3 linked regions of the Homo sapiens genome follow. The protein of the gene in region 1 binds, or shares a complex with, the protein of each later gene. Each region holds a gene or a part of one and is shown in the gene's direction. Other genes may lie near its edges.

The links. Proteins that work in one complex are often made in the same cells at the same time.
Region 2: the proteins of TNNT2 (region 1) and TNNI3 are in contact, whole or in part, in a crystal structure (PDB 4Y99), measured with the Homo sapiens proteins. Residues at the interface, in NP_001263274.1 of Homo sapiens: Glu214, Lys217, Lys218, Ile221, Leu222, Arg225, Arg226, Lys227, Leu229, Ile231, Asp232, Leu234, Asn235, Glu236, Leu239, Arg240, Ala243, Lys244, Leu246, Trp247, Ile250, Tyr251, Leu253, Glu254, Ala255, Glu256, Lys257, Phe258, Asp259, Leu260; in NP_000354.4 of Homo sapiens: Arg68 (codon at 5,517), Glu71 (codon at 5,526), Lys72 (codon at 5,529), Ala75 (codon at 5,538), Leu76 (codon at 5,541), Arg79 (codon at 5,550), Gln81 (codon at 5,556), Pro82 (codon at 5,559), Leu83 (codon at 5,562), Leu85 (codon at 5,568), Leu88 (codon at 5,577), Gly89 (codon at 5,580), Phe90 (codon at 5,583), Leu93 (codon at 5,592), Gln94 (codon at 5,595), Leu96 (codon at 6,971), Arg98 (codon at 6,977), Leu100 (codon at 6,983), His101 (codon at 6,986), Arg103 (codon at 6,992), Val104 (codon at 6,995), Asp105 (codon at 6,998), Val107 (codon at 7,004), Asp108 (codon at 7,007), Glu109 (codon at 7,010), Glu110 (codon at 7,013), Arg111 (codon at 7,016), Tyr112 (codon at 7,019), Asp113 (codon at 7,022), Ile114 (codon at 7,025).
Region 3: the proteins of TNNT2 (region 1) and TNNC1 are in contact, whole or in part, in a crystal structure (PDB 1J1D), measured with the Homo sapiens proteins. Residues at the interface, in NP_001263274.1 of Homo sapiens: Gln266, Tyr269, Asn272, Val273, Asn276, Arg277, Asp280; in NP_003271.1 of Homo sapiens: Asp99 (codon at 6,478), Phe101 (codon at 6,484), Arg102 (codon at 6,487), Asp105 (codon at 6,496), Ala108 (codon at 6,721), Asp109 (codon at 6,724), Gly110 (codon at 6,727), Tyr111 (codon at 6,730), Arg147 (codon at 6,838), Tyr150 (codon at 6,847), Asp151 (codon at 6,850).

What each region holds. Positions count from the first base shown.
Region 1 is NC_000001.11:201,367,423-201,375,071, reverse strand, and holds part of TNNT2 (troponin T, cardiac muscle), read left to right. Parts: intron 1-1,670; exon of another isoform or gene 1,671-1,803; 5' UTR 1,804-1,817; coding exon 1,818-1,858; exon of another isoform or gene 1,859-1,953; intron 1,954-2,916; coding exon 2,917-2,927; intron 2,928-3,030; coding exon 3,031-3,045; intron 3,046-5,226; coding exon 5,227-5,256; intron 5,257-6,844; coding exon 6,845-6,910; intron 6,911-7,265; coding exon 7,266-7,301; intron 7,302-7,649. UniProt on the Homo sapiens protein: Troponin T is the tropomyosin-binding subunit of troponin, the thin filament regulatory complex which confers calcium-sensitivity to striated muscle actomyosin ATPase activity.
Region 2 is NC_000019.10:55,154,733-55,161,797, reverse strand, and holds the start of TNNI3 (troponin I, cardiac muscle), read left to right. Parts: upstream 1-4,065; 5' UTR 4,066-4,208; coding exon 4,209-4,219; intron 4,220-4,489; coding exon 4,490-4,502; intron 4,503-4,664; coding exon 4,665-4,748; intron 4,749-5,153; coding exon 5,154-5,195; intron 5,196-5,465; coding exon 5,466-5,597; intron 5,598-6,967; coding exon 6,968-7,057; intron 7,058-7,065. Other genes in the region: DNAAF3 (dynein axonemal assembly factor 3), read left to right, coding at 1-155, 380-505, 611-733, 1,023-1,158, 1,788-1,899, 2,191-2,265, 2,349-2,736. UniProt on the Homo sapiens protein: Troponin I is the inhibitory subunit of troponin, the thin filament regulatory complex which confers calcium-sensitivity to striated muscle actomyosin ATPase activity.
Region 3 is NC_000003.12:52,451,042-52,458,243, reverse strand, and holds TNNC1 (troponin C, slow skeletal and cardiac muscles), read left to right. Parts: upstream 1-4,202; 5' UTR 4,203-4,228; coding exon 4,229-4,252; intron 4,253-5,730; coding exon 5,731-5,761; intron 5,762-5,991; coding exon 5,992-6,138; intron 6,139-6,385; coding exon 6,386-6,500; intron 6,501-6,716; coding exon 6,717-6,853; intron 6,854-6,937; coding exon 6,938-6,969; 3' UTR 6,970-7,144; downstream 7,145-7,202. Other genes in the region: NISCH (nischarin), read right to left, coding at 318-401, 2,510-2,602. UniProt on the Homo sapiens protein: Troponin is the central regulatory protein of striated muscle contraction. Tn consists of three components: Tn-I which is the inhibitor of actomyosin ATPase, Tn-T which contains the binding site for tropomyosin and Tn-C.

The sequences.
Region 1 (7,649 bases):
TGAGCAGGACTGTCTATGTGCCTCTGTCCTCATCCTGAGGCTTGGGTCTGAAATTGGTGCTGCAGCACTGGCACGCGTGAGTGGGGCAGGAGGTGGGCAGCAGGGGAGGAGCATTGGAGGGTGGTCCTGAGCATCATTTGGATTCTTCTCCCGCCTCACTTTAGCCTCACTCTCACATCACCCTGTCCATTCTCTCCCTTGGAAGCCAACATCAGGAAGGCTGTGGAGCTGGCATATTGCACTATAACAGAGGCTGCTGTTCACGTTTCAAACAACGTGATTGTGTCCCTGGAGCAGTGCACTGTCATGGCCCCGGAGGGTTGGGTCATAGTAGTTATTAGCTGAATGCCTACACTTCACACTACCTCTGTTCCTCACACCTACCCAAGAAGAGCAGTAATTTCACAGCAAAGAGAGCTGAGATGTGGGGAGGTTAAGTGACCTTGCCAAGGTCGCAGGCAAACGCATGCTGGAGCCAGCATTCAAAACGAGATTAGTCTCACACTCAAGTGCTTGCTCTCTGCCCCCTCCCTGTGATTACATGCTCATTGTAACACCTGATGTTGCCTAATGCCTTCCCCTTTTGTTAATGTCAACTGGAGCCTCGTAAAGACCCTGAGTAGCCAGGATGTGTACACTTTATCTCCATGAGACAGAGAAAGGACTGAGGTTTGGAGATGTTAAAAAGACTCGCCTAAACACCCTCGGCAAGCTAATGGAAGAGGATCTGAATCTAGATTATCTGTTCCCAGTGCAGTGAGAAGATGATCTCAGAATGAGTTCCCTGGGGGAACATTTTTTAATCGGAATTTTCATTGACATAATTAAAGACTAGTACACAGTTGTCTTTAATAACGAGCGTTTACACACGGTGCCTAGTTTCTCCCGAGGGCAACATTTGCAAAATTAGTACTATATCAAAACCAAGATTGGACATCAATACAATCAATCTATGATCTTATTCAGATTTGCCCACAATTGCACCATGTGTATGTGAAACTCTAAACAACTTTAACCTGTGGAGGTTCACGTATCCATCACCACAGTCTACATACTGAAAAGATCCCAAACCACAAGGATCCCCGCTGTGTGCTTTGATTTATTTATTTAGAGACAAGTTCTCACTCATTTGTCCAGGCCAGTCTCTTGGGGTGCCCAAAGACCTTTTGTCCAGGTCTCACTTTTGTCCAGCACACATGGAATGGGTGTGGTGGCTCACGCCTGTAATCTCAGCACTTCGAGAGGCTGAGGCAGGAGGATCCCTTGAGCCTGGGAGTTCGAAACAGCCTGGGCAATGTGGCAAAATCCCAGCTTTACTAAAAATACAAAAATTAGTCGGGCATGGTGGTGCACAACTATAGTCCCAGCAACTCAGGAGGCTGAGGTGGGAGAATCGCTTGAGCCCAGAAGGTTGAGGCTGCAGTGAGGCTTTGTGCAGTGAAGATTTGTACAGTGCTGAACAGATCCTGTGGAGTGGGGGTGGGCAGAGTGGATGGAAAGGTTGAGAAACTGCAGACATTGTCTTGAGTGTCACAAATGGAAATGCAGCATCCCAGGCAGTATTGCCTGTTCAGGGGCAAGGAACGAAGTGGACATCAGCAGGTGGCCTTGCTGCCATGTGGGTGTCACTATCTCCCCCAGCAGGGGAGAAAACAGGCTTTTTGTTGCAGGTCACACAGCTCATGAGGGGTGGAACTAGATTCACCCTAGGCCTCGCTGATCTCTGTACAACGGGGGCCAGAGCTCTTCTGAGGAAGGCAGGCTTCCCTTTGTACCTGCACTGACTTTTTTCTCCTTTTGGAGGGAGAGCAGAGACCATGTCTGACATAGAAGAGGTGGTGGAAGAGTACGAGGAGGAGTGAGTATCTGGAGCATCTTGCCTGAGTGGGGTCCTCTCCCGCCGCTGCCCTGACACCTGGTCCAGGAGCCTCCCAGCTGTCCCTCGGATTCTGGGTAGAAGTAGCTGTGTGTGTTTTGGGCACCCCGAGGAGAGATATAGCCATTTCCTTTCCACTCCTGTACCCCTGGGTTGTAGATCCCAGGCAGAGCACAGGCCGAGAGACTTCGGGAAGCACAGAGGTTCAGCTCCAGGGTCATCAGTGTCCTTGGCCAGTCTTGGCTAGGGGCCATGAACAGAGAAGCTGAGATGTTGGGTCTCCTGAAACTGACTGAGGAAGGTTCAGTGACTCTCCAGAGGCACAGAGCTGATTATGCCCCCCAAACCCCAGCTCAGAACCCAGTGTTATCACCCTGTCTTGGATCCCTACTCTCTCATGACAGTGCCCTGCCCACAGTCCTATCCCAGAGGGAAACCAGGGGGTGGGACACAGCCAATCCAATAACTACAGAGGATAGTGGTCACCAGGGAGGAGACAGAGGTATAGGCACGGCTACTGCCCTCACAGAACTTACTCTTGTTGAGATGTTAAGACATAAACTGGGAGAAGAAATTAGCAACTGGGGGCCTGGTGTGGAGGGCGGGCTGTTGGTAGTGTAGGAGTTCTGAGGAGAGGGAGATCAGGGGCTGGAATAGTCAGGGGGCTGTGTGGAGAAGGCAGGTCTTACCTGTGTAGAATTTGGAAAGATAAGAGATTTGGGAGAGGGCAGGACTTTCTAGAAAGGGGTACAGCTTGGGCAAAGATGGAAAGAGTAAGTGAGCAGAACGCTGGTGAGACCAAGCTGGCTGGGGCGGAGGCTTGCGGAGGATGGTAGGAGGCAGCCCTGCATGAGAACGGCAGGCCAGGCTAGTGGGTGTCATTGCAAGGTGGGCAGGGCAGCGTGGACTCCACTAGGCAACAAGGGAAAAGAAAGGGGGATTATCTTTGGGGAAAGGCCAGTGTGTGCATGTGTGTGCAGGCGTGTGTGTTTGCATGTGCTTGTGTGCGAGCTACTGACAGTGTTTCCTGTTGCTCTCAGGGAGCAGGAAGGTAAGCGTAAACGTGTGTACTCATTTGGATCAAAGACAGCCTGGTTCGAAACTGACCCACCTCTTCTCTCTTCTCTTGCTGCCTGGACTTCTCTTCTGAGCAGAAGCAGCTGTTGAAGGTATGTGCCTCAGGCAGGTGGAGAGCCAGAAAGGGGCAGGCTCAGCAATGTGGAAATCCTGGGAGCCCTGGGAAAGCAGCTCATCTGTCCCTGCTCCTCACTCTCAGCTGAGCAAGATCCTCCAACAACAGTGCCTTCTAAAATGGGAATCAGTCCTACCTGGGTTGCTCGGGTCTTGAGGCAAACGATTTAAACCTGTCTCTTCTGTCTGCCATTTGCTTCAAACACACTGATCACTTTTCCCAATTTTTTTTGCTTCTTCTCCCTTTTATCATGGGAAATTTTAAATGCACATAAAGGTAGCAATAATAATAATAATGGCCCCCCCTGCCCAAGGTACCCATTACCAGCTTCAACAATCATCATCTTAGGGCCAGTCTTCTTTCCTCTATACTCCACCTTCCACCAGTTATTTTGGAGCAGACATCCAAAATTGTTCCCAGGCACCATGTCAGTTCACGCTTCAAGATTTCGCTACACCGTATCTCTAAGAGATAAGCACTACTTAAAAACCATAACCACAATGCCATGATATGCCCCAAAAGATTCCATTTAGTAATTTCTCAAATGCGATTGTGAGTATGAAATTGCTCAGTGATCTGAGACGTCTTATCTCGGCATGAAGATTTGTCATGATTCTGAGCTTGCAGAGGCCCCTCTTGCTGCTCCTATGCTGATCGGTTAACCCATCGCCCTCCTCAGCTGTGGGTCCCACATCTCCCTGAAAGAACGCCCTCACCTTCCCTTCTTCCTGAGAGCTTGGCACATGGAAATGACTCAGAGGCTTCACTCCAGTCCTCCCCCTGCACCCCAGGCAGGTGGACCCTGCCTTTTAGTGGCTCAGGTATCACTTCAGCATGTGGCATGTAGATATTAGGAGAAGGGTCTCTATGAAGGTCCAAGGGGGGAGCCCAGGTGGCCCCGCCCTTGCTCCCCATGGCTCCTAGGGAAAATGGGGACCCTCCTGCACATTTAGGGCTGTTCCAGGGCTGTCTGGCCAAAGAGGAGACAGAAGAGAAATTCACAGGAGAAACTGAAAGAGGCCACAGGCGTCTTTTTTGGTTTTTAAGGAACACCAGATACTTCAGAAGCTATCAGAAATATATTTTTGAATAAAAAATCTAACTGGCTCCAAATTCTGCTGTGTTCCCTGAACAGACTCTTGATATGATATCCCTTCCTTTGTTTTGGAGGATTTTCCACTTCCTTATAACAGGTTTAGGGTGGTGGAGTTTGAGACATAGATCTCTGGATTTGGGACCAATCTGCCTGCCACACACAGTAGAATTTGGCTGTGAGTTAGCAGAGTCATTCTCCACTGTGCTGGGGCCTGAGCCGTGTAGCATCTGCCTTGCTTGCCATGAATAGACGAGACTTGCCTCCCACACAGTTGAGGATCTGGCTGCAAATGATCAAGAGAGAGCAACGTCTAGATGGGTGTCCACTAAGCCTGCAGGATAGATAATGCCAGGTGTCCTTCTTCCAGGAGAGGAATTGTTCCACTTGCTGGAACTGTTTTTTTGGGCAGATATTTGTACGTAGAACAACTGTTGTAGATGCAGCCTCTTTCCTTAGATTTATAATGCTGGACCCTTCTTAGATGGGGCAGCATCCTCCCAACAGGCCGGGCAAATCTCCCCTGGGGCCAGGCTCTCCAATGAGGCTTTCTAAAGTGTGACTCCTGGAAACTGGACATAGTTTGCAGGATACCCAAGAGCCTCATTCAGAGCAGGAACATGGGCAGGCTCGTTGAGGGCAGGAAATTTGATGGAAGAGAATTGTCCCCCACTCTCTGCTCTTTAGGGGCCTCTGTCTTAGTAAGAAGGAGGCCAAGGCTCTGTCGTCTAGAGGCATTGCAGTTACCACAGATCGCATGCTCCTCTTGTGCCAGGCACCTGCTGGGCGCTCTATGCACGCTAGGTCATTCAGTCCTCACCACGGCTGAGAAGTGAGTAGAATGATTCCCATTTTACTGATGAGGCACCTGAGGCTCAGGGAAGTAACTGAGAGTTGCCCCTGTTGCTGGAAAGTAGTGGCTTGGGAATTGGAATGCCGGCCTAACTCCAAAGCCCACACTCTTAAAACCACTGCGCTGGGTGGCTGCTCCTGCCGCGGGCTCTCTGCTCCCAGACTAACCTGTCTCGCTTTTCCCCTCCGCTGCGGCCACTCCCTGAACCTCAGAAGAGGAGGACTGGAGAGAGGACGAAGACGGTAGTACAGCCTTTCCTTCTGTGGTGCTTTCTGCTGCCTGCTGTCCCAAGTGCAGCCTCCTTGTCCAGGGGCCCTGTTCTGGGGGCTGGGGGGTGTGAGTAGGCGGCAGGGACGGAGTGGGTCAGTCGTTTCCTCCCCTGCCTCCCAGGGGCCAGGATCACAGTTCCAAGCTGATCATCATGCCTGAACTTCAGGGCCACTGGCTCCTCTTCCTGGTTCCTGGATCCTTCCCCTGGGTTGGGTGGTGGGAGGGACCAAGGCTAGCTGGTCTCCCAAGCTGCTCCAAATGTGGCCATAGAGGGGACCTGGCACCTGGAAGACAGCAGCGCCACCCTGCCCCCGCGCACACCCCAGTGTTCCATGCTGGGCCCTCCTTAGGAGCTGGACAGCACCAAGCAGGGTGGCCAGGTGTTGGTTGGGGGGTCTGGGGACAGAGTCCTCTGGAGAGCAGCCAGGGAGACTGGAAATAGCCAGAGCAGGAAGGACATGACGTCAGCCTTCAGATGCGCCCTGCTGATGGGGAGCACAGGACCAAGGCAAGGGAGTGAGACCAGGGCTTAATTTTAGAAAGTGCGTTCTGACAGCTATATCTCAAGATGCAGTAGGTGGGTTGGGGAGGCAGTAAGCTCCCCATCCTTGGGATGTTGCATGGCCACTGGGTGGGCTGGGGTATATTATATAGAGAAATGACACGTCAGATGAGGTGGCAGAGGTGTGAACAAGATGGCCTAAAGGTAGACCCCACAATGGCCATGTCCTTCCTCGCTAGCCCTCTGCTTTCACACTTTCTAGAAGGATCATTTTGAGGTAAGACTCCTGCAGGGATCAAATAAAAGGCATCTCCAGGCTTCAGAGAGGACTCAGACCTGGGAAGGGAGGACAGAGGGAATGAAGGCCAACCCTTCTCCCACGATGGTGTCTTCCTCCTGTCTGAGGTTTTTCTTCTCCCTCTGCCAAGAGGCACCCACTTCCCAGTGCATCAGTGAACAGGCATCACAGAACACTTCCTACAGGCACAGCCCAGGCCAGGCGGCATCCTGTCTCCCTTATCTGTTTGTCTGTCTGTCTACACCAAGTGCCTGAGTGAGATGGGGGCCACATCCTGCCAAACAAATAGATGAAAATAGAAAAATCCTGCCCACTTTCTGGATAGTACGAAGATCCAGATATTGAGTGTGCCATCCAGCCACACAGTCGTACTCTTTTGGTTTCTTTGAGATGTGGATTGAGGGTGTCTAGAGTCACTAGGTTCAGGACAGGAGCTTCTGGACACCTCGGCTTAAGCAGAGCATGTTCTGTGGTGCCAGACACGGGGTGGAACTTCTGGGCTGGAAAGTTGGGGAATGAGGTGGAGTCCCATCATCAGGGAGGTTGCCGGGATGAGTGGGGCTAAGCTGGGTGGCGGGAGGTAGCCGACAGTCAAAACCAAGAATGGCAGCCCCCCAGCACGTTGGTTGCCCCCAAATTCATCTGGACCTAGACGTCTTGACCCCCATCCCCACTCCCCGCTGCCCATTCTCTGCTCTGGGTTCTGCCTGATAGCATGAGTGGGGCCTGCTTCTTCACTCTGTCTGCTTCACTTCTCCAGAGCAGGAGGAGGCAGCGGAAGAGGATGCTGAAGCAGAGGCTGAGACCGAGGAGACCAGGGCAGAAGGTAAGTCTCTGGTTGAGGGTGCAGGGGCCTCAGGGGGTGGCGAGAGCCCCTGGAGCCATTCCTGAGGCAGTAAGAAACCCCCCAGAACAGGCTTTCCCATGTGCACCTGACTCTCCTATTGACTAAGATTCAACCATTGATTGCCCAATCAACAAACGTTGACCCAGCGCTTCTCTTGTGTCAGGCAGTCTTGGGTCCAGGGGAATGTGTGTGTGAGAGACAGCTCTGTAACCCCAAAAACCAACAGAGTGCATCTTGGCTAGGGCTTATCTGTGGGGAAGGCTCTTGCTGGTGGCGGAGGGGGGGACTTGAGCTCAGAACAAGGACCTTGATTGATTTCTCGTGTTTCATTTAGAAGATGAAGAAGAAGAGGAAGCAAAGGAGGCTGAAGGTAAGGATATCAGGAGAGAGGTACAAGGGAGGCAAAGGAACCCCTCACAGCAGCTTTGGAGGAGAATGCCCACAGTGCTCTTTCCAGGGAAGTGGATGTGCACTGAGAGGGTTTGGGAGAGGAGAGGACAGAACTTGGTGGCACTTCCAAAGTTTTAGATGTTGAGCTTTCAACTTTGCCCCTTCTCCCAGAGAAGTTGCATTGGTGGCACCCAGTGGGAGAGGGGACCATTGTCCAGCCCCCTGGTCTGGACAGAGCAATGGGACCCAGAAGTCATATCCACACATGAAGCTCCTAGAGCTTAGGTGAAATCACTTGTAGGATGTGGTGTCCGTAGGATGAAATCCC
Region 2 (7,065 bases), on another chromosome or scaffold:
TATTCCGCTTCTGGGCTGGCGGCGAGAAAGGGCCCCAGGCGTTCCCCATGAGCCGCCTCTGGGACTCGCGCCTGCGCCACTACCTGGGCTCCCGCTACGACGCCCGGCGCGGTGTCAGCGACTGGGACCTGCGCATGAAGCTGCATGACCGCGGGGTGAGGGGCCCAGGAGAGGGGCTGGGGGCCTGGACCCCTGGGTCTGAGGGAGGAGGGGCTGGGGGCCTCCTGAGTCTGAGGGAGGAGGGTTTGGGGGCCTGAACTCCTGGGTCTGAGGGAGGAGGGCCTGGGGACCTGGACTCCTGGGTCTGAGGGAGGCTGGTGTAGGGGTCTCTCCACGCTCGGTTCACTGAGGGCTCCCTTCTTCCCGCCCCCCACCCCAGGCTCAAGTCATTCACCCCCAGGAGTTCCGACGCTGGCGGGACACAGGCGTCGCCTTTGAACTCAGGGACTCCAGCGCCTATCATGTGCCCAACCGGACCCTGGCGTCCGGTCGCCTCCTGAGCTACGTGCGTGTCCACTGCCTGTCCTGGCCCACTGCTGCTGCTCGGAGTCCTAGGAGTCAGGGGCCCCAACATCGACCTCACCTGCCTCCTCTCTCCCTCCTTTTCCAGCGTGGGGAGCGCGTGGCAGCGCGCGGGTACTGGGGGGACATCGCCACGGGGCCCTTCGTGGCCTTCGGCATCGAAGCGGACGACGAGAGCCTCCTGCGGACGAGCAACGGCCAGCCAGTCAAGGTGCGCGGCGAGGCTGGGACTGGGGGTAGAGGTGGGGCTGGGGGTCGGTGGGTGCGCAAGGCCCCGCCCCCACAGCAGGCCCCGCCCCCAGCTCCAGACCCCGCCCGTCGCTTGGTGGGAACGACTCCATTCAGAGAACAGGCCCCATCCCCGCGGGATAGGTCCCGCCCCACTTCACATCCTCCAAGCAGCTGCGGGAGTTCTAGTCCTGGACCGAGGACTCCCAGCGTTCTAAGCCCCGCCCCGCCATCCTGGCCCCGACGTCTGGCCACGCCCCTTCTACTGTTAGACGGCCGGGGAGATCACTCAACACAACGTGACGGAGCTGCTCCGCGACGTGGCCGCCTGGGGGCGCGCGAGAGCCACCGGGGGGGACCTGGAGGAGCAGCAGCACGCGGAGGGAAGCCCGGAGCCAGGGACTCCAGGTAAGCCAGGGACAACAACAGGTAAGCCAGGGACTCCAGCCTCCAGGTGTTTCACACTGGAGTGTGGACTGACATGATTTGGAATGCCTGGGCAAGTGACGGCTTCTTGATATTCTGTCTCTTTTTCTCTCTTTCTCTCCCTTTCCTAAATTCTGAGAGCATGCTTAGAATTCTGAATTCCACTAGCAGAATTCTAATCTTATCTGCAGAGGGCTAAGCTATCCAAGAATATTCTCACAGGGTGCTGGGTCCCAGCTCCCCCTTGGACAGCCTCCCACACCCTGGATCCTGGCTGGGCCTCCTTCCAGCCATCCTCCAACCTGGCCCTCCCTGCGTGTCTGTCTGACAGGGCATGTCACATGTGGCCCTGGCCACCCACCCTCTTTCCCTCTCTAGAGTCTCAGTTGCCTGATCTGTACAGTGAGTCTCTGCCTGCCAGGCTGACCTTCCCAGAACTTTCCAGGAGCCTACCTTAGAGGATTTTTTAAAAAGCTGCAAGAGGACAAAAAGTGTTATCTCCAAGTCCTGTGTGCCTGCCCAGCTCTGCCCAGCTCTGTGTATCTCTCTGGTTTTCCGCCCTTATGGCTCCGCCTGTCAGAGGTGACCCCTCTATCCCCTTCCCCCAGCAGCCCCGACCCCGGAATCTTTCACCGTCCACTTCCTGCCGCTCAATTCTGCTCAGACTCTCCACCACAAGAGCTGCTACAACGGCCGATTCCAGCTCCTCTATGTGGCCTGTGGGTAAGCGGGGAGGCAGCTGTGCTCACAAAGACCCAGGATCAGGCCCCCAGCCCCTCCTCCCTCAGACCCAGGAGTCCAGGCCCCCAGCCCCTCCTTGCTTAGACCCAGGGGTCCAGGCCCCCAGCCCCTCCTCCCTCAGACCCAGGAGTCCAGACCTCCTGCTCCCTTCTTTCCCCAGGACCCAGACTCCAGTTTTGCCACCCCTCCTCCCTCATTGTCTGGGATCCCAGAGCCCCATCCTCCCTCCGGATTTGGAGCTGAATCTCAGCCTGTCCTCCGTCCTCTCTGCAGTATGGTCCATCTTCTCATCCCTGAGCTTGGGGCCTGTGTGGCACCCGGAGGGAACTTGATTGTGGAATTAGCCCGGTGAGTCAGTGGGGTGGAGGGTGGGGAACATCCTGGCTGGGGATCAAAATCTGGGTCCCTGACAGGGCGCTTCCCATCTGCAGGTACCTGGTGGACGTGCGGCAGGAGCAGCTGCAGGGATTCAACACCCGGGTCAGGGAGCTAGCTCAGGCAGCTGGATTTGCTCCACAGACCGGGGCCAGGCCTTCAGAGACCTTCGCACGTTTCTGCAAGTCCCAGGAATCAGCTCTGGGCAACACTGTCCCAGCTGTGGAACCCGGAACTCCGCCCCTTGACATCCTGGCCCAGCCTCTTGAAGCCAGCAACCCAGCCCTTGAGGGCCTGACCCAGCCTCTGCAGGGTGGGACCCCACACTGTGAGCCCTGCCAGCTGCCCTCTGAGTCTCCAGGTTCACTCTCAGAGGTTCTGGCTCAGCCTCAGGGGGCCTTGGCTCCGCCCAACTGTGAGTCAGACTCCAAAACTGGAGTCTGACCCAACCCCTAGACACCCCTTATCTCCAACTTCCAAAGTCAGGTTGTAGGATGAGAACCCGCTGATACCATTCTAAGTCCGCTGCTAGAGTCCTCAATTTTATTCTAATCATTCCCACTCAGTACCCGCCACCCCCACCCCGGGAGTGTTGGTAGACTTTCAAATTCCATTTCTGAGATTCTATGGTCTATTCCTAGAATTCTAGATTGTTCTCTCAGAATTCCAAATTCCACTTCTGAGGCTCTAAGCCCAGCCTAGGATCTGACACTGAGTCTCAGGCCCTTGACTTTGGCCCCCTTGTTCCCAGGCACCCTGTGGCTGACTAGGGGCTGGGGTGTCTCCTCACCAGGGCCTGGTCAGCACCCAGATGGTTCAAGTAAAGCAAGTTGTGTCCACCCTTCTGTGTGTCCAAGCGTCTTTCCTGTCCTATGTCCGTCTCCAGGGCTGGGAGAGAAAGGCCCAGGAGTGCTGGACAGAGGAAGCCAGAAACCAGATTCCTGGGTTTCCAAGTGGACGAGGGATGGATTTCCCAGTGCTATTGACTGAGAGCTAGCCCCGAGCACAGCTGCATCCTCAAATTAATCAACAACATTTATTGAGTGGCCTGGACTCCTGGGTCTGAGGGGAGAGGGATTGGGGTCCTGGACTCCTCGGTCTGAGGGGAGAGGGATTGGGGTCCTGGACTCCTGGTCTGAGGGAGGAGGAGCTGAGGGTGCAGACTCTTGAGTCTGAGAGAGGAAGTGTGCTGGGGGCCTGCCTGGACTCCCTTGTCTGAGGGAGGGGCTGGGGGCCTGGACCCCTGGGTCTGAGGGAGGAGGGGCTGGGGGCCTGGACTCCTGGGTCTGAGGGAGGAGGGGCTGGGGCCTGGACTCTTGGGTCTGAGGGAGGAGGGGCTGGGGCCTGGACTCTTGGGTCTGAGGGAAGAGGAGCTGGGGGCCTGGACTCTTGGGTCTGAGGGAGGAGGGGCTGGGGGCCTGGACTCTTGGGTCTGAGGGAAGAGGAGCTGGGGGCCCAGACACTTGAGTCTGAGGGAAAAGGGGGCTGGGGGCCTGGACTCCTTGTGTGAGGGAGTGGCCAGGGTCTCCCAGGGTCCTGGGACTGAGGGAGGAGGAGGTTGGGAGGTCGGGCATTCTCTGGGTCTGAGGGAGGAGGGGTCTAGGACTCCAGGATCAGAGGGAGGAGGGTCCGGATTCCTGTGCCCGGAGGTGGCTGGTGATCCAGCTGGAGCAGGGCCCACCCCGCCCCTCACGCGCCCCCGTTATCTGGCATAGTGGGCAGGGGGAGGAGGAGGTGACAGTATATTTAGTCTGTGTCCTCGCCCTTTATCTCAGTGTCCTCGGGGAGTCTCAAGCAGCCCGGAGGAGACTGACGGTCCCTGGGACCCTGAAGGTCACCCGGGCGGCCCCCTCACTGACCCTCCAAACGCCCCTGTCCTCGCCCTGCCTCCTGCCATTCCCGGCCTGAGTCTCAGCATGGCGGATGGGTGAGTGATGCCCCAAGGCAGTGGGAGTTGGGGGCGACCTCCCGGGTTCCCAAGAGGGGTCGCAGCTGAGAGGCTGGACCCTTGGCCTGCGAGGTAGGCGTAGGGACTCTTGGGTGAAGAGAGGAAGTGGGTTTGCGAGTCAGACTCCTGGAACCCAAGGAAGGGGAAGCGCGGTCCCCCGACCTCTTGTTCAGAGGGGACTCCAGGGGTCCCTTAGGAGACAGGACACAGCCCACCACTAACCCCCCTCCTTGGTTTCTCTCCTTCCAGGAGCAGCGATGCGGTGAGAGCAGCGGGCTAAGGCGTGGCTGGGACCCCCAGGGCCAGGGTGGGCGCTGCAGTGAGGGGTCTGGGGCGGGAGGCTGCAGCCCTAGCAGAGGGTGCGGTACGGTAAGGGCTGGGTGGGGTCTTGGTGGTGATGGGGTCCCCACTCCTCCTAACCCAGGCTAGGGAACCTCGCCCTGCACCAGCCCCAATCAGACGCCGCTCCTCCAACTACCGCGCTTATGCCACGGAGCCGCACGCCAAGGTGGGACGGGGCTTCCTGGGGGCAGAGTACAGGCGCCGGAGGGATCCAAGACCCTGGGAGTGGGGGGAGGAGCCAGGGCTGCGAAGGGGGCGGGGACTACGCGGAGGGGCTTCAGGGGCGGAGTTTTGCAGAGGGTCATGCTCGGATTGGTGACAGCAGCCTGCGGGCGGAACTCCGTTGCCCTCGGACTTGCTTAGGGATAGATGGGAAGTGCCTATCCAAAGGAAGAGACCCAGATTGGTGGATGGGAATGAGGGGCGTGGCCTCCCGTAGACTCAGGGCTCAAGTTGGACGTGGGCCCAAATCTGGACCGGCTGGGTTTGCTGGGGGTGTCTTGAGGTCCCCTCCACCGTCGTCTCCGAATCCCCCTCCATGATCCTTCCTTGCTCCATCTCACCCTGGCAGAAAAAATCTAAGATCTCCGCCTCGAGAAAATTGCAGCTGAAGGTGAGGACGGGCGGGACTGGGAAAGAGCAGGCAGGTGCTCAGGGGGCGGAGCTTGAGAATGGGTGGGGCTTTCGGGGTAGGTGGGCGGAAGTGGGCGGGGTTTGGCCGCTCGGGGCGTGGCTTTAGCGGGGAGTACTGCTCGGGGTGGGACGGGGCCTTGGAACAGTGGAGACCAAACTGGAGGGTTTAGAAGGGCAGAGGCGGTTCCCCACGCCTGGTCTTTATCCTGAAGCCCCGGGTGGGCTGCGCTTCCCTCCCACCCCTCTGCAGACTCTGCTGCTGCAGATTGCAAAGCAAGAGCTGGAGCGAGAGGCGGAGGAGCGGCGCGGAGAGAAGGGGCGCGCTCTGAGCACCCGCTGCCAGCCGCTGGAGTTGGCCGGGCTGGGCTTCGCGGAGCTGCAGGTACCGGCTCCCAAGGATGCGAGGTTTCTAGTCCCGGAATTCAGCAGTACAGCCTCTATCCCCTCTTCTGCTCGGGACCCAGGCGTCCAATATGGCTGTCCTTACCCAATTATATATGGTTCGTGGGACTCCTGGCCCCTAACACCCTTTGTGTGCAGGTCTGTGGAGTCTTGGCTCCAACCTACTCCTTCAGGACCATGTGGCCCTCCTATCCCAGACAGAAGCCCAAGCCCCAGCCCCTCCTCCCTCAGACCCTGGAGTCCAGGCCCCAGCCCCTCCTCCCTCAGACCCAGGAGTCCAGTCCCCAGCCCCTCCTCCCTGAGACCCTGAAGTCCAGGCCCCAGCCCCTCCTCCCTCAGACCCTGGAGTCCAGGCCCCAGCCCCTCCTCCCTCAGACCCTGGAGTCCAGGCCCCAGCCCCTCCTCCCTCAGACCCTGGAGTCCAGGCCCCCAGCCCCTCCTCCCTCAGACCCTGGAGTCCAGGCCCCAGCCCCTCCTCCCTCAGACCCAGGAGTCCAGTCCCCAGCCCCTCCTCCCTCAGACCCTGGAATCGAGGCCCTCAGCCCCTCCTCCCTCAGACCCTGAAGTCCAGGCCCCAGCCCCTCCTCCCTCAGACCCTGAAGTCCAGGCCCCAGCCCCTCCTCCCTCAGACCCTGAAGTCCAGGCCCCAGCCCCTCCTCCCTCAGACCCAGGAGTCCAGTCCCCAGCCCCTCCTCCCTCAGACCCTGGAGTCCAGGCCCCAGCCCCTCCTCCCTCAGACCCTGGAGTCCAGGCCCCAGCCTCTCCTCCCTGAGACCCTGGAGTCCAGGCCCCAGCCTCTCCTCCCTCAGACCCTGGAGTCCAGGCCCCAGCCCCTCCTCCCTCAGACCCTGGAGTCCAGGCCCCAGCTCCTCCTCCCTCAGACCCTGGAGTCCAGGCCCCAGCCCCTCCTCCCTCAGACCCTGGAGTCCAGGCCCCAGCCCCTCCTCCCTCAGACCCAGGAGTCCAGTCCCCAGCCCCTCCTCCCTCAGACCCTGAAGTCCAGGCCCCAGCCCCTCCTCCCTCAGACCCAGGAGTCCAGTCCCCAGCCCCTCCTCCCTCAGACCCAGGAGTCCAGTCCCCAGCCCCTCCTCCCTCAGACCCTGGAATCGAGGCCCTCAGCCCCTCCTCCCTCAGACCCAGGAGTCCAGGCCCCCAGCCCCTTCTCCTCCCTCAAACCCAGGAGTCCAGGCCCCCAACTCCTCCCTCAGACCCAGGAGTCCAGGCCCCCAGCCCCTTCTCCTCCCTCAGACCCAGGAGTCCAGGCCCCGAGCCCCTTCTCCCTCAGACCCAGGAGTCCAGGTCTCCCTGTTTTTGGTTCCCCCAACAACACACACCACGTTCCTCCTCCAGGACTTGTGCCGACAGCTCCACGCCCGTGTGGACAAGGTGGATGAAGAGAGATACGACATAGAGGCAAAAGTCACCAAGAACATCACGGAGGTGGGACG
Region 3 (7,202 bases), on another chromosome or scaffold:
GAATAGCTATCGCTAGATCAAACAAGTTCAAACCTGTCCCCTTCCCAGGAAACTGTCTGAGCATCTCATACCCAAGCTAGGACTGGAAATATTAAAACTGAAATTCAAATATGCTCCTTGCAGAGTGGCTCATGCTAGAGCTGAAGGCTAGCATTTACATGCTATATTAATGAACGCAGTTATATTAACAAAGTGGTTTATTAAAGAACTATAGAGATGGAACCTGTTTTGCCCTAAAACTAATATGTGGCACAATGGAAAGTTGGCCTACGGGTCCCCCAGCCCTGAGATACGTGCTCCCAGCTCTTAACAGTTACCTTTTCATGCAGGTCATGGAAGTCGCTGTAGCGGTGCTTTACTGTCCACTCATGGCTGCCATCAGTGACCTGGATGATGTAAACCTAAAAGGGGAAACCAACAGCCCTTGTGGCAAGGGAGCCCAGCAACAAGGAGTCTCCTCCCCCAGCAGCAAAAGCTGCAATTATCTTTCCCAATTATCTTTTATCAGTCTTTCTCTCTGCAACTCAGACCCACCCCAAGGCCAAAGTCAGGCTGCCCTTGCCCACCAGCCTCTGCACCTGACCCTTGCTGACCAGCAGGGCCCCTCTCAGCTTCCTCCATGGCCCAAGCACTAGGGCTGGGAGGCACATGAGACAAGCATGTGGCTCCATCCATCAGTAAGGAATGAAAAAGGTGATTACCACAAGTCACCTCTTTAGTTTTTTACCTCCTGCCTCTAGGTAACTCAAAACCCAACCGGAGCTGCAGGCAAGGCCATTTCTTCCAAGGGAGGCAGAGCAGGGCCAGTTCTAGCCTGAGCATCTTCTCTGTTGTACTTCTTTCCAGGTGCCCTGACTACCTCCTGGAAGCAAGTCATTTTCCAACCCTTTCAACTGGTTCATGGCTGTGATTTCTGCTGCTGAGCCAGGAATCAAGGCACAAGCAGCTGATGTGGGGAGGGAGTGGTAGCAACTAAGCTCTATCAGGAGGCAATATGGCCTAGAGGTTAAGGAAGGCCTGGGTTAAAAACCTGGTTCTGCCATTTCCTGGCTGCAGCTTATGTGTCACTTATATAAGTAACTTGGAGCCTAAGTTCTCTCTGAGCCTTAGTTCCTCCATCTTAGAATCAAGGACCAAGTAAGGCAATGCATGTAAAATGCTTTGTACATGGGCCTGACCCATGGCAAGTGTTCAAAAGGTAGGTGTGTTAATAATGTCCAACTCGGCACACCCGGAGACAGAGGATGGTAGGGTCCAAACTAGATCACCACCTCCCCCGACATACATGCAGAGGAGGGGCGCAGTCCAGAATAGGGTGAGCTTTTTGAAGATGGCCCTCTGGCTGAATGTGCCCATAGCTGATGGCCAGTCAGCCATCAGCTTAGAGACCTCACCCGCCTCCTGCACCTAGTTTCCCCCTCCTCTCTGCAGCATGGAGCTGAAGCCTCCTCCAGCCCTGAGGAGCAGCCATTTCTCCAGGCTGGCCTGTTGCTTCAAGATCCACCCCTCTCCTCTTCCCATCCTGCCTGATTCCTTCCCCTTGCCTTCAGGAAAGGAGAAAAGAGCCAGAAGAATGGCCCTCAGAGCGGAAGGTTAGGATGAGGGCCAGGGAGGGGAGGTGCAGGCAGGCCCAAGGCCCCCACCCACTCCCTACCCTGCGGGAACAAAGGGGAGGAGGCAGGGAGGTGCTCTATGCCTAGTCCAGGGCCGGTTTTTGCCAGGCAGCCCACCAGGCTCACAGGCCTGGCATCCAACCCCGTCAAAGTCGGGAACTACCCGCTATTTGTCCTCTGTCTCCCCCATAGCTTAGAAGTGTGTGTGGGCAGCTTGTTGCCCCATCTCGCTCCCACAGCCCAAAGTCACGAAGATTCCTAAGGCTTATAGGGCCTGCGCTTTAGCACTGAGACCACCCCCATTTCTCCATAGATGGGCTCCACCCCTCCTCCGGTCTTGTCTCCGCCCGACCCCCAAGGCATCTGCTCCCCAGGTCTCTCCTGCACTTCTCAGAGAAAATCTCAACCACCACCTCAGGCTCCCCAGATCAGGGTCCTGACGCCTTCTCTTTCTTCAAGGCCTGCGAAGCCTGACCCTTTTCCCTGATTCCATCCATCAGAGACCCTCTCCCCATCGCCTTCCTCCTGGACCCCTGTAACGGTCTTCCAGGCCGGGGCCCCTCCAGTCCTAGAGGATCTAGAGGGGTTCCGCCTCATCTAGACACCCCCCTCCCCAAGCCCCCTTTATCCCCAGATGCCGCCCCCAACCCGAGCCTCCCTTTCTGATCGCGTACCCTTTTCCAAACCGCCTCCCCGGGCCCCGAGCAACCCTTCTCCCGGACCTGCGGGGCCCAGATCCCTTTCCTAGATCCCCCGTCCCAGCCCCCTCCTCGCAATCGCAGACCCTTCTACCCGCTCCTCGGGGCTGCAGATCCCGGACCCCTCCCCAAGCCCCCGAGTCGGACTCCCGGTTCCAGCCACCACCCCCGCTTCGGGTGCCCGCGCCCCCAACACACCGTATAAGTGTCCACAAGCTCCGAGCCCACGACGCGCGCTTCCTTGGCCGGCTCGGCTTCCCGCTCGGGCCCGAAGGTGCGCGCGGTCGCCATGTTCGGGTCTCCGCCGCCACCGCCGCCCGGCGCAGACTAGCAGCAGCAGGGGGCGGGGTCAACGTCCCACCGCCCCCCGGCCCCCGCCGCCCGTCGCCCCCGCCGCGCGCTGCGCCGCCATCTTGGCCCCGCCTTCTTCCTGCGCCCTCGCCCCGCCCCCGCGCGTGACTGACAGGGGCCACTCAGGGCGCGCGTGCGAGGTGCTCGCTTGCGTAATCTACCTGCGTGGCGCCGCCGGCGGTACCCTGCACAGCCTGCTAGAAACTGAGACCCCGGGTGGTGACAGCTCTGGGCATCGCCCCTGGGTCCTCGGGAAGAGGGGACAGAAGGTCCCGAGTCTCCCAGGCCACACGAAGCAAGTCACTGCTCTTCCTGGCCTCAGTTTACTCCTCCTGATAAAGGAGGCCATAATAGTGCCTCACCTGGCTGTTGGGCTCTTTCTCTTTAGGGCAAGGCAGGTTGGAGGGGAAAATAGGACCTGTGCTTACCGCCGGAGCAGGGCGAGAGTGATTCTGGGCCAGTTCTGAACCTCTCTGAGATTCGGAGATCTCTTGTCAGTGGGGCTTCTGGACAACTGAGTGGGTTGATTGATGCGCGGCCCAGCACGCAGTAGTGCTCGAGGCAGGGAGCGTGTTTATCAAGAGGGATAAACTTGATACGAACTCTGTACGAAGGAAGGTGTAGGTGGATGGAGGGGTGTGTGCTGCCACTGAGCACAAGAACCCCACGGGGTGGCCTGCCAAAGTTCAAAACGAGGGAGACAGGTTGATCTGGACCCAGGAACTACAGTGCTGAATCCTAAACCGGGGAAAGATGAGACCTAGAAGAGGGAGGTGGTAACCTAATTGGAGGGTGAGGAGGGAAAGAGCCTGCCACAGATGGGGCATCTATAGGGGTGCTGTTGAATAACTGAGAGCAGCTGACTTAAGCCCGAAGTGGGTACTTCTCCCTGGGCAGATGGGAGGTCTGGGACAGGCTCCTCTGGCAGAAGGGCTCCTGGCCACCCTGTCCTAAGGTGGGTCAGTCACTTCCTCCTTCACCAGTTCCACAGCATCTTACTATGAGCTTGGCATTCGAGGCTTCTCTTGGCAGGGCCCTGCACTCCTAGCCTCTCCTTGCACATTGCACCCCCATTCCAGAGAGGTTTAGTTAAAGGCGGGGGTTACCAAGTCAGTCAGATCTTGGGCAAGTCACCACTCCTCCAGAGCCTCAGTTTCCTTATCTGGAAAGTGGAGGTCATGGCAACCCGCCAACCTGGTTGGATGGGAGCCTGAGCTGTTGTGTTGCACCTTGCCTGGGGCCCACGACTTTGTAGCTCCTGTCCTGCACTGGGCTTATGTTTTCATTCATTCCAGAAACCTTTTCAGAGAGTCCCTTTGGGGAGTGTGGGGGACAGGAGGGAAAGAAACCTGGTCCTTGTAGCCGTTCGTCTGCTCCCTGCCCTGGGCAGAGGACGTGGGGACTCAGGCCAGCCTGAGATCACTGGGACCAGAGGAGGGGCTGGAGGATACTACACGCAGGGGTGGGCTGGGCTGGGCTGGGCTGGGCCAGGAATGCAGCGGGGCAGGGCTATTTAAGTCAAGGGCCGGCTGGCAACCCCAGCAAGCTGTCCTGTGAGCCGCCAGCATGGATGACATCTACAAGGCTGCGGTGAGGGACAGGGCTGGGTAGGGCTGGGGTGGGCAGGCCCACTGGGGGCTCACTCAGCTGAGAGTGCGGGGTTAGTAGCCCCAGGGAAGTGGTGGGGACCAAGGAGAAGGCCTACGTGCCTTCAACCCAGGCCCTCACAGGGACAGTGATTCTGGTGTTTGAGGATGCAGAAGGGGTAGGGGGTTCCGGGTCTGAAGGGTGGTGGAGGAGGTTGCAGCTTTCAGCATCGTGTCTCACTCTCTGTTTCCAAGTGTCTGTGGTCTGTGGCACTGTCGCTCAGCCACATGTCTCTGCATTTGTCTCTGGACGTTTTTGCCTTTCTCTTTTCATCTCTTCCTCCTGAGCTGTCTGAGTCCCCATTACTGTCTCCCTGTCCCCAACCCCCATTTCTGCCCCTCACATTCTGCTTCTCACATGCTCAAAATCTGCCACCCCACTCCAGCCCCTTGGCGGGCCGAAGATGCTTTGGAGGGTGGAGGGTGTGAGAGGAGGGGTCTGTAGAGCCTGAGTCCTGGGCTGGAGATGGGGCTTTGAAGTTTGAGGCAGGGAAGTTCTGGACATGAGGGAGAACCAAGGAAGAAGGAACAGAGAACTGGGGCCCCAGCTCCCATCATGCCTGGCAGGCTCAGGGCTCAGTGGCTTAGCTAGGGGTGAGAGCGAGGGAATGAGGGCTGGAGAGTGGTCACCCCAAGCCCCTGCAACCTCCTGGGTCACTGAGGGTCTTCAGATGCTATTCTATCCTGGGTGGTGGTGACCTCCCCCAACCCCAGAGCAAGGACATCCTGGCATGGCCAGCTGTCCCCAGGGGAACCCCTCCCTCAGCCTCCCTCACTCCTGGGCAGGGAAGTGCTATAGCCAGCTCTGGGGGCACGCCTGCTTATCCTGTGGGAGTCCATGGAGCCGGGGTTGGGACAGCCCTCCACCCAGTGCCCATACAAGGCCTGGCGGAGTTGGGGACTAATTTTGGCTTCTGAGGCGGCACTAGCAGGCCAGGGGGCCAGATAACGCTGCCCCACCCCCTGCATGCCAAAGTCCCCAGAACAATCACCAGGTTTAACTTTGTTCCTCGTTAAAAATAGCCCAGTGGCCACCCTGGTCAGGTTACCGTGGGTGGCTTGCCTGCCTCCACACTGGTTTTATTATCCCAACTTGAGGGACAGCTGTCCTTCGGGCCACCCAGCTTGAGTTTCATCAGGGGCCGAAAGGGCATTGAGTGGTCACTGACTATTGTTACTGAGGGTCACCTTGGTCCTGAAGGGGGTGCCCACCTGTCACCCTGGCCCTGAGCCCAGTCGCAGTGAGGCCAGCTGGGTCACGTCAGGGCTTTGGGGGCAGGGAGGGAGGACTGAGACCTCCACTCTGTGGCCTGGAAATAGCCTGCCTCCTCCAGCTCCAGCCTTCTCACCTGTGGAATGGGTTGGTTTCCTCAGCAGCAGCTATACCTGAGTCTGAGCCTTGAGATTCCCTTTCCTTTCTAGGTAGAGCAGCTGACAGAAGAGCAGAAAAATGGTGAGAATCCCTATCACACATGTGGGAGACCAGCGGGTCCAGGCTGGCATGGGGACCCCTTATCAGAAGAGGACCCCAGGCCAGAGACCAGAGGCTTGGTCCCTCTTGCTCTGCCCTCAGAGAGGTCTCCGAGGGAGGTGGGCAGGTTGGCAGGTGGCCCCAGGGTTCTGGCCCTCCGTGGTCCTGGCTGCTGAGCCCTGACTACTGTGCCCCCCAACCCCTGAACACAGAGTTCAAGGCAGCCTTCGACATCTTCGTGCTGGGCGCTGAGGATGGCTGCATCAGCACCAAGGAGCTGGGCAAGGTGATGAGGATGCTGGGCCAGAACCCCACCCCTGAGGAGCTGCAGGAGATGATCGATGAGGTGGACGAGGACGGTGAGCCCCCTCCTCCCCAGGCTCCAGAAGAACCCCAGCTGGCTGGGGGCTGGAATGCTGGCTCTGTTTAGCTGGGAGCAATTTAGCCTATCCGAGCCTTGGTTGCCTCATCTATAAAATGGGCATAAGGGCTACACAAGCCTGGCGTTTGGTGTGAGGATGCGGTGAGAACATGGGGGTTCGTGTCGAAGGTGCTGCCTGCAGTACCTACCCTGGCCTCTGTAACGGCCATGCTGCCCACCCCCAGGCAGCGGCACGGTGGACTTTGATGAGTTCCTGGTCATGATGGTTCGGTGCATGAAGGACGACAGCAAAGGGAAATCTGAGGAGGAGCTGTCTGACCTCTTCCGCATGTTTGACAAGTGAGCACGTGACCCTTGACCTCTGACCCTGACCCACACTCAAGCCGAGCTGTACAGGAGGGCAGTCTCAGATTCCAGGCCTAGGGACCCTGTGGCCTCTGCCTGATAGGGGAGAGGGATGCCCCATCTCCCAGTGTCCCTGCTCTGCCTCCTGGGGCATGGGTGGGGCTGCCTCATGCCCTCCCCACAGCCCTACCCTGAGCCCCCTCCCCACAGAAATGCTGATGGCTACATCGACCTGGATGAGCTGAAGATAATGCTGCAGGCTACAGGCGAGACCATCACGGAGGACGACATCGAGGAGCTCATGAAGGACGGAGACAAGAACAACGACGGCCGCATCGACTATGATGGTAAGCGGGTGGGTGGGCTGATCTCCTGCCTCCATGCCCTGCCCAGCCCCTACCCTCAACCCACACCTGCCCCTCTTTCCACAGAGTTCCTGGAGTTCATGAAGGGTGTGGAGTAGATGCTGACCTTCACCCAGAGCTGCCTATGCCCAGCCTCCAACTCCAGCTGAGTCCTGGGGTTGGGGAGGGGGTCGGGGTCCCAGGACCTGAGCCTGGCCATGTCCTCAACCCCAAATCCCCCGACTCCCTCCCCAGATCTGTCCTGGGGGATGCAAATAAAGCCTGCTCTCCCAAGGTCTGCTATCTGGCTCTGGTGTCCCTGGGCCGTGGACTCATCCCCAGGACCCACTCT